2 separate regions of the Homo sapiens genome follow, and region 1 is linked to region 2. Evidence: fine-mapped expression QTL. A gene starts in region 2. The other region holds a variant in brackets. All regions are shown on one strand. Distances are from middle to middle. Region 1 overlaps CNTN4 (contactin 4). Region 2 holds the start of CNTN4-AS1 (CNTN4 antisense RNA 1).

The links. PIP is the estimated chance that this variant, and not a neighbour inherited with it, causes the effect.
Region 1: its variant is fine-mapped to the expression of CNTN4-AS1 in whole blood (TOPMed, PIP above 0.99).

What each region holds. Positions count from the first base shown.
Region 1 is chr3:3,039,986-3,045,370 of GRCh38, reverse strand. CNTN4 (contactin 4) reads right to left here. Exons shown (of 25, transcript NM_175607.3): 20 at 5,100-5,334; 21 at 2,949-3,061; 22 at 2,208-2,394; 23 at 1,667-1,779. CNTN4-AS1 (CNTN4 antisense RNA 1) reads left to right here. Exons shown (of 4, transcript NR_046554.1): 2 at 2,358-2,458; 3 at 4,217-4,326; 4 at 4,989-5,385. Among named protein-coding and RNA genes, the nearest start is that of CNTN4-AS1, 18 kb to the left of the region's middle. The variant G/A (reference allele first, on the strand shown) is at 2,402.
Region 2 is chr3:3,058,185-3,063,569 of GRCh38, reverse strand. It overlaps CNTN4-AS1 (CNTN4 antisense RNA 1), which reads left to right and starts at 2,425. Exons shown (of 4, transcript NR_046554.1): 1 at 2,425-2,503.

The DNA of each region.
Region 1 (5,385 bases), 18 kb after region 2:
CTCCCAGTTAGGCTACTCGGGGGTCAGGGAACCACTTGAGGAGGGAGTCTGTCCATTCTCAGATCTCAAACTCCGTGCTGGGGGAAACACTATTCTCTTCAAAGCTGTCAGACAGGGACATTTAAGTCTGCAGAGGTTTCTGCTGCCTTTTGTTTGGCTATGCCCTGCCCCCAGAGGGCAAGGAGGCAGGCAGGCCTCCTTGAGCTGCAGTGGGCTCCACCCAGTTTGAGCTTCCAGGCCGCTATTTACCTACTCAAGCCTCAGCAATGGCAGGCGCCCCCTCCCCCAGCCTCACTGCTGCCTTGCAGTTCGATCTCAGACTGCTGTGCTAGCAACGAGCAAGGCTCTGTGGGCATGGGACCCTCTGAGCCGGGCATGGGACCCTCTGAGCCATGCATGGGATATAATCTCCTGGTGTGCCGTTTGCTAAGACCATTGGAAAAGCGCAGTATTAGTATTAGGGTGGGAGTGCCCTGATCTTCCAGGTGCTGTCTGTCACAGCTTTGCTTGGCTAGGAAAGGGAATTCCTTGACCCTTTGCCCTTCCCAGGTGAGGCGATGCCTCGCCCTGCTTCAGCTTATGCTCGGTGCACTTCCCCCACTGTCCTGCGCCCACTGTCCGACAAGCCCCATTGAGATGAACCCAGTACCTCAGTTGGAAATGTAGAAATCACCAGTCTACTGCGTTGCTCACGCTGGGAGCTATAGACTGGAGCTGTTCCTATTTGGCCATCTTGGAACTGCCCACGTCCATCCTTAGCTTTTAAAAGGGCTGGCAGCTTCTGCTTTCTTCCTCTTGAAGCTGACAACTATGTAAGAAATCCGACTACTCTGAGGTCACCATACTGTGAGGAAGCCCAGGTTATCCGTGGGGAAAGGCCTCATAGAGAGCATGATCACTGGCCAGCCTCAGCTTTCCCACCTATCCCATCCAAGAAGCCAAAAGTGTGTGAAGAAGCATCTTAGTTATTCCAGCCCTAAAATCTGTCCATTCTGGCCCTATCCACATTGCAAAGTCATAAAAAATGATACACTGTTGCTGTTTTAGCCCCTAGCTTCAGGTTGGTTTGTTAGGTAGCAAATAGGTAGCTGGAAACGTTGCAAGATATTTATAACCCTTTTTGATTGCTGCAAGAAGGCTACAGACATGTTCTTTTCATTTTCTCATTAAAGACAAGCCAACATTTATGGGGTCAGGCAAACATTTTCTCCACTTTTCCTGCTTTTTCTCTCTTTTCTCTTTTTCTTTATATAACTCTTGACTATAGAAACATACGAACAAAAATGATTAATCATTGGTAATATCAGGAGGCTACTAAGTTGACTAAAAAATATATATAAACCGAGACAGGAGCAAAACGAAGCTGACAGTAGGAATGTTTAAAAAGTGGTTCTTCAGGGTATTTTTGGAGACCCAAACACAGGGTCTTTATCCATTTCTGATTGATGCTGCCTGAGACTAAAGTTAAGGTGATTGTCTAAATCCTGACCAATTGCCATAGACTATTTATACAACTCAGATCAAACCGTGTTGGAGGCAGCGATTCCTAGAGGGTAGGAGAGCATCACCAGGGAAACTGACAATGCAGACAACTGTATAATTCATGGAGGAGACTGCCCCCACTCACAGCACGATTAGGTGCCTTTGCAAAAAAGAAATTACCTACTTTGTATCCTTTTACTTCCGACTCATTATCCAGGGCCTTCACTTGATCCCAATTCAGGATAATTTTGGAGTCTGATGAATTCCATATGATGTTTCCGGGGGGTTGACTTGGTGCTATAAAAAAATTAAGATATACGAAGTCACAGATTATTAAGTCTCAATGGATTCTGAGGAATATCTCCTTACTAGAATTCGAGAGTGGAGGCAATTTAATGGGCTATTGCACTAATATGTGTCTTCAAGGTCACTAAAATCTGATGAGATACAGCATTGCAAATGGAAAAAGATTCAGTTGGTCGCCTAACATTTATAGCTAAAAGAAGTAGCCCTTCCCAGTGAGGAGAAAAACATTTATCTTTCTGTCCTCCACAGCAATGAATTTTGCGTGGTATACGGAAAGGTTCAGTTAAAATGCTGAGGGAAATTTGAATCCACATGCTACTAATTAGTATGCAAATGATCATTGGGAGGTGGGGATAAGGAATAAACTTGGGATATGTGTGATGAATCCCCAAAATATTTCTGAGCAAGTCTGTTCTTACGTGGCTTTCGGGTTGTCACATTGACTGTTGCACTAGAGGGGCCTGTCCCAGCAGAATTATATGCCTTGACAGCTAAGTGATACAGCACACTGCCTTTTAAGTTCGTGATTTTTGTTGATGTCTGATTTCCAACTGTTCGTATTTTTCTAGCATTTTCTTCTTTGTCTTCATGTCTCCAATATTTAACCTAAGAA[G/A]ATAAACAGAAAGACCTTGGAAACCATACCCAATGGGGATATTTGCAATGTCATCAGGTAATTTTGTACGCAGATTCTTATGATGGAGTTAGTTTTCTATACTACATCATGAGCAGAGCTATCAGGACAAAGGACTCTGTATATCCTGAGAAATTATCCAAAGTAAGAAGGGTCCCTTTTTTGTCCTTAGCTTCCTAGTGAGACGGTACATTGACACAACCGTCGTTCATTATTTTCTTTTTTCCCATGTTTGTTTTGAGTCAAAGTGATCCTGGGCATATCAGAAGTCAAAGCTCATTTTGCCAACCATCCCGTAAATGCTTAGATTTGCATATAATTCGAAAAATACCTCTAGAATATAACATAGAAAAAGGGTAGTCTCACAGCTGAGTATTCAATGCTTCCATTAATGTTCAGCTGGAAGCCAGGCCTAAAACCAATGCCTCTTAGTGGGAATGTGGGTCTCTTCCTATAAGAATGTGACTTGGAGGACTTATCAAGGGGCATAGACTCTCTTTCAGACCCAAGGCACATATGTCTTGCCTACCTCATAACCTTGTATTCGTCCTCTATTCTTCTCCAGTGGGGAGGCCCAGAAAACTTCAATATCTGTGGCAGAAAGACTTCTGGCAAAGATACTGGCTGGTGGTTTGGTGGGTTCTGTAGATGAATATGGAGATAGTTATTACTCTATCAGCTATATTAGGACAGGATTGTAGATACTAGCATTATAAGGTAAAATAATTCATGGTTATAGAATCGTCCTTAATGATTGTAAGCCAAACCCTCATTTTGCAGAGGGGCAGTGATTAATAGCTGGAGTTGGTGGTAGTGAATATTTGTCCAGTGTTTGGGTTCTGAATTTAGGTGTGGGTAGAAGAGAAGAACCACTTAAGTTTAAGCACCAAGTTTTCATAGCCAGCAATTCCCTTAACACAGATCCTTCTTAATTAGCATCTCACAAATGTTATTGCTTACGACATGGCTAAACTGCTTCTCTTTTTCTTTTTTGAAATAGGGTCTCACTCTGTCACCTAGGCTGGAATGTAGTGGCACAATCATGGCTCACTGCAGCCTGACCTCCTGAGCTCAAGCCATCCTCCCGCCTCAGCCTCCCAAGTAGCTGGGACCACACACACATGTGCCAACACGCCTGGCTAATGTTTTTTTGTAAAGACTTGGATCTTGCTATGTTGCCCAGGTTGGTCTCAAACTCCTAGGCTCATGCTATCCTCCCACATCCCCCTCCCAAAGTGCTGGGATTACAGGCATGAGCCACTGTGCTTGCCCACTAAATTTTTTTTAAGGAAGACTATTGAAAGAAAAATGTGAACATATACAAATGGTACACAGCTATGGCAGAAATCTGGCAAAAATAACTGAAATTTGGGAAACAGTCAGTCTAGCCTCTCCTTTGCAGCCAAAGATGCTGAGGCCCACAGAGTATACCTGAGTTATCCAAGATCATACAGATTGCAGTGTGAACCTGAAGTGTCATCCAGCTCTCTTGAATCTTAGTCAAGTCAGCTGACTGTCCTTTTCCCCTTTTCCTCTCATTTTCATAATCCAGAGACATGAACTATTATCTAAGAGAAGTTGAAGGCTATGAAAAGGGCTGAAGCTTGTTTGAATAATTGTAAATCCTTTGGCAATGGTTGGAACATGAAATATGCAGGGAAAGGCATCAGCAGCTGAGGCAGACAGAGAGGCAGCAGCTAGATCATGGAGGGCTACTGAGTCTAAGGGGATGATCTCTCTGATTGGGAATAAGTTATTGCATCTTCACTGACTCTAAATCAATGATTCACCTTTCAGATGTTTTAACATGGTCCCATTCTGAGCATCATCTTTAAAACAACATAGACGAACTCCAAAGGTAACGAAGACTGTGTGAGAGGCATCCCGAGAGCAGGGATAGCATGGAGGTGATAATAATGTGTGAGAAATGTTAAACATAATGATGGTGTGGATGACAGTGAGCGCAATCACACTGCTTCATGACTTACTCTTTTCTTTAATAAGTGAGATTTTTTTTTTTTTTTGAGATGGAGTTTTGCTCTTGTTGCCCAGGCTGGAGTGCAGTGGTGCGATCTCGGCTCACCGCAACCTCCGCCTCCTGGGTTCAAGTGATTCTCCTGTCTCAGCCTCCTGAGTAGCTGGGATTACAGGGATGTGCCACTACAACTGGCTAATTTTATATTTTTAGTAGAGATGGGTTTTCTCCATATTGGTCAGGCTGGTCCCGAACTCCCAACCTCAGGTGATCCACCCGCCTTGGCCTCCCAAAAGTGTTGGGATTACAGGTGTGAGCCACAAGTACCATATGCTTTATGAAAATACAAGTGGTAAGAAAATGCAAATTATATTTTGATATTCACTTAAAGGCAAAAATAAAATTCTTTTGAAAGTAATGATAACATATAGATAGATATGAAGATCTTATATGGTATTTGCAATTCTGGTCCTTAGCAATGGAATCAATAATGGACAGCCAAGTGTTTTCATATACAGAGCAGTCGCTATCTTTTCAAGAGATTCATGGTGGACAGCGAACCAAATTGTTTACATTATCCTCTTCTCAAATCAGGTATGCCTTCAAGATACATGTACCATGCGAAATTGATTGTACGTGCTACAATCCACATTTTAGAATTGAAGAAATATTAACAGTCAATGATCTAGGCAGCATAAACGATACCTTCTTCTGCAGAATACACCACCGTGGTGGGACTGAAAGGGCCTTCTCCTTTGTTGTTGAAGACACCTACTTTAACCTCAAAGGGAGAGAAGGGGTGCACGCTCTCATTCCTGAACACGTATCTAGAGGCATCAGCTGAGGCCAGCACTGTCAGCATCCAGATCATTTTACCGTAGGGCCGGAAGGCCACCACATAACCAAAGCCTCGACCATTCTGTAATTCCTCAGGGACCGTCTGGGAAAGAAGGAAGGTGGTCTTCAGAAATCACAGTAGTTTCACTCAAAT
Region 2 (5,385 bases):
CTACTCAGGACGCTGAGGCAGGAGAATCACTTGAACCCGGGAGGCGGAGGTTGCAGTGAGCCGAGATTGCGCCATTGCACTCTATCCTGGGCAACAAGAGCAAAATTCCGTCTCAAAAAACAAACAAAAAAAAAACAAAACCTCTTTTCTGCCAGCTCTAAGAGGAACTTCACCCACCAGCCCTGTCTCTCTGGACACACACACATCCCATCCTCACACCATCCAAGGAAAAGTGGGAAGGAGAGTTCAGCAAACGAAACAGAACTCAAAACAGCAAACTTCATGTCTCGCCCTCAGAGCCATTGACCTTCAGAGATCTGACAACACATTCGCAAGACCCTGAAATTTTGAATTACAAATTAATTACTTCAATGAGAGTAATGAAGACCTCCTGGTGTCAGGTTGCCAGATTTAGCAAATAAAAATAAGAGGCTCAGTTAAAGTTGAATTTCAAATAAATATCACATGGGGCATACTTATACTAAGGAAGCATAATTTTTTTTTTATCTGAAATCTAAGTTTAATAGCTCCTCTCCTATTTTATTGGGTAATCCTGATCTTGAAGGGTAGCCGGAGTTTAAAGAAACAGCTCTAAGACACCTGAAGTCAAGGACAACGAACACGCAAAAAACAACATTTGCAGTCAAGGAAAGAGAAGCAGAGAAGCTGAGCCACTTTAGAGCAGACTGAAGCTCATGACTGCCTTTCCTTCTTGTTGCTATATGGGAACCGTATCTATCTGTCTATTTATCTATCTACCTACCTTATTGTTTATGTATCATCTATTTACAGATAGAGACATCTAATGTTTTGGAGTAGGGCCCTAAACCCAAGCCACCAGCATTTCAATTCCTGGTCTCTCTGATCAACTGTGTGATCAGGGACAAATGTGAACCTGTCAACCTCAATCCTCTGTGTATAAAATAGGAATAATAAATGGTAACTAAATCGGTAGGTTGATTTGCACTGAGTCTGGCACATATTATAAGCATAATCACTGTTTACTATTATTATTATCATTGCATTTCTCTGTATTGTGACAAAATACTGTTACTGGTGCCTTGGCTTCCTCACACACATCTGAATGCCACATCATTCTTCTATGCCCAGAATAGTGCCTGGTACAGAGAGGGCTGCCAGTAGTCCCTTGCTGAATAACTAAAACCCTCTCCAGGCACCTATCCTATCCCATTCCTCCAGATGGCTGTGCCCTGGGCCTGGCCGGCACTCAGAACTTCTCCACCTCCAGCATCTGAACCTCAGACATCTCACCCTTCTACCTCACCATTTCCTCTGGCCTACCTACTTGTCCTAGAATGTTCTCTAGTTGAACTTCAGAGTCTAGTTCCTTACTCCATCCTGTCCTTTCTCTAAGTACTTATTTCTAGGTGTATGAAATGCACTAATGAGTCTATGTTCTAAATTCTAGTCCTTCTTTTTTTTTTTTTCTTTTGTTTGAGACAGAGTCTCACTCTCTTGCCCAGGCTAGAGTGCAGTAGGGCAATCTCAGCTCACTACAACCTCTGCCTCCCAGGTTCAAGCAATCCTCCTGCCTCAGCCTCCTGGGTAACTGGGACTACAAGCACGTGCCACCATGCCCAGCTAATTTTTGTATTTTTAGTAGGAATGGGGTTTCACCATGTTGGCCAGGCTGGTCTCGAACTCTTGACCTTGTGATCCCCCCACCTCAGTCTCCCAAAGTGCTGGGATTACAGGTGTGAGCCACCATGCCCAGCCCTGACTTTCTAATTGTCTATGTTACTTTGGGCTTCTTATATAACCTCTTTGCTTCCATTTCATAAATAAAAAAGGAATAAAAACCTATGTCCTCCCCTTATTAGTGTGAAAAGCACTTTGAAAACTAGAAAAACAAATTAAAGATATTACTATTTGTTAAAGTCCTAGGACATATATATTTCCTGGTATAGTTCGTGTTATTCCTAACAATAAGGATATGTGGCAAAAACCCAGTTTACAGAGAATGGGGATATCACATGTAATTGCATCTATATTTAAGTAGCTCAGCCTTCCAATTTCCAGACTTTCAGATCGATCATATGGTTGACCTTTTTTAAAAAAAGCTTTCTCTCTATGTGATCTATATCACTAGAGCTCTGCTAATCTACCATGGCCCATAACTGCTTGTGATAAAGGATAGAGGCCAATTTTGTTTAAACTGTGATCTCTGTTGAGTATTGTAGTTTGCAGGTGAGTTGCAGAGCTGGAACATTTAATCCGCATGGCCCATTTAGCACAAGGGGAAACGGGGCCTCTTTGCAGAATGGGCAGCCTGACTTGCATTTACTAATCACACTCTGGCAGGGGGCCTGAGGAAATCACAGGAAACGGGGCCAGATATTCTCCTCCCTCTAGGTCTGAGATGGAGGTGACACAGGCCTTGTGCCTGGGAGCACAATGAGGAACCACACCCAGATGCCAACGCTGAGGTGCCGTGTGTCTACTATAAGGCGGAAGACACCAACAAAAATGATTTAAATATAAGGTACGAAGGGATGACTGACATGAGTGGGTACAGACCCCATCCCCTGGAGGTCAGAGAAATGCAAGGTCAATTTCAGATGGGGAAGCTGAGGGAGGCTTTGTGCAAAACCTGGCATCTGAATGGGAACCCTACTGCCTAAGTTTGAATTAGTTGATTGTATGATTAAAATTATCGAACATTAAAATTTATATTAAGAAGTGATCATGTTTAAATAAAAGGTGATAATGGATGTGTCAGCTGAGTTCCACTCATTTTGGTGATAAGAAGCATCCACATCCTACATCTGTGGGTCTAGTAAAGTCCCTGGAGAAAAAGAACAATAACAGACGGTAAAATCATCACTGTTTGGAGAGCTTTACAAACTTTATCCTCCCTAATAAGTAGCCAATCATTACAATGCACCCCAGGCAGTCAAACTCCAGGATCCACGTCCTTAGTCTTTGTATTAGGCTGCCTTTGTAAGGCCTCAGTGTCTGGCATTTTGTAATGGAAAAATCTGGGGTATGTCCACAGATTGAATATAAGTCCTTGATTTTAAAGGCTTGCCTTTCAAAGCACTATGGTTGGCCACATAACGTTTTTAGCCAGAACATTTTGTAAATTGTAACAACAGGAAAATAACAGTCACTTCTTGATTATAAGTGTTAACGGAGGAGAACAGTAGCATCGATAATCCAATGTAGTGAACAAAAATCACCTGTTGGTTGATTACATTAGATTAAAAACTGCATGACATTTTTGTTGCTAATTATGTGCTATTTGTATACTTTTTATAACTCAACATTCTTTGCGCATATTTGTAGTGAGGCAAGGTGGTGGAAGAGACTGGGTAAAGGTTAATCAGGATTTAACATTGCCTCCTGGATATAAACAACCACAATTTTGATGGTGGGAATAACACAATCATTCTTTCTTAATATCAAAGTCTATGCACCTTCTACCTCACAGGCTGGAAGAATTCAGAGCTTACCTGAGAAATGAAGCTTATCATCCATGTCTTCTGTGCCCATGGAAAGGTGCTGCTTTGTATGTAGCATGTGTGGGCTCCATAGAAAGTAGGTACACTGAGAGAATCCAAATATCTGGCACAATAGAATTTCCTTTCATACAGTTAAATCACAAGTGGACTACACACACAAAAAGGAGGGCAAGAGTAAGCACTTTGAAAGGTTAAACAAGCAAAGCAAATTTTCCTAGTGGTCCTCCTTCAGAAAAAAATCTCAAGCAGCAATATAGTCATTCCACTCGAGTGTATTACTTGGGCTAAGGGCCTAAGAAAGTCCCCTTGGCTGGCTAAGCCTAGAAAATCTGTTACTTATACCAACCCAGCATTTCTTCTCTTACCTTTGGAAAACAGCATCTTAGTTTTCCTTTAACTATCCCTCCCCTGTGAGTACAAGGTACTCTGGCTGTGGAACTCAAATGGAACTGATCACTTTCCCAGGAATCTGAATATTGAGCATAATGGCGTCAAAATTGGAAACAAAGCTGATTCATCCCCACAATAGCACCCCAAAAAGACTTTCCAAAGTTCCCATTGTCTGGACCCACAGAGTGGCCTGGTTCTTATTCTCCTCAAGAGTTGGTCCTTCAGTGTTTCCTTGGCTCATATGATGTAACCTGTGTCATTCTAATTCCTTACTTTTTGTTTGCTCAAGTTACCCAGGGTCGTTTCTTTGCTTACAGCCAGTGGACCCTACCTGAGGCAACCATGAAAGCCAACAAATGAGACAAGTTTGGGTGGAGGTGCTCATGGGGCACTTTCTAAAACATCTTCAATTCAGTTAGACTCAACTAATCCAGGACCTCATTTACCCGATGATGAAGCCAATTGGTCAAAGACTTCTTCCAGGTACAAAGTTAGAAGCCAGGCCTTTTAACGCTTTTCAGCACATAACGAAAGTAATGACACAGTCTTCCCTGGTTGGTTTGCTGTGGCACACAGGCAGGCAACTGATGCAAAATGCTACTTCAAAGACCCCTTCATTCAATTAATCAGTGAGTATTTATTGCAAGGCACTGTGCTAGGCACTATGGAGAGTACATGGAAGATAAGACCAAAGTCCCTGCCCTCAAGGAGCTTACAATCTAGTTGGGAAGACAAGCCATACATACAAGAAAAAGTAAGTAACAATACAGGAGTTAAATTAAAATGCAAGATAACAGTACAAGAGATTTCCAAAAGTAGTATCTGATTAATTACTAAATGAGCAGCATTGATAGGGGATGCAACTACTTCCAAGCGAGAATGTCATAAAGGACTGAAGCATGGGAAGTCTTTGCAGACAAACTGGGGCTGGAGCTACCCTAGGACAGCAGGGATCTGAATGGGAGAGAAGGGTGGAGAAGGCATTTCAGGAAGGGGCAGCCATAAGACCAAAGGCACAGAGGTGAGACCAAAAGCAAGCAGTGTTCAGGGGTCAGGGAGGGCTTACTGTGGCTGGATACACAGTTAAATCGTTTTGGATTAAAAAGGGCCTTAAGGGCCGGGTGCGGTGGCTCAAGCCTGTAATCCCAGCACTGTGGGAGGCCGAGGCGGGCAGATCACCTGAGGTCAGGTGTTTGAGACCAGCCTGACTAACATGGTGAAATCTCGTCTCTACTAAAAATCCAAAAATTAGTCCGGTGTAGTGGTGGGCGCCTCGGGAGGCTGAGGCAGGAGAATTGCTTGAACCTGGGAGGCGGAGGTTGCAGTGAGCCGAGATCGCAACATTGCACTCCAGCCTGGGTGACAAGAGTGAGACTCCGTCTCAAAAAAAAAAGAGCCTTAAATGCTCAAGCTTAGAACTTACCCTTTTAGCAATGGGGGGTGAGGGAAACAACAGATATACTTACAGTAAATATACAAAAGACTTAGCTAATCAAGAGAAAATATTCAAGTC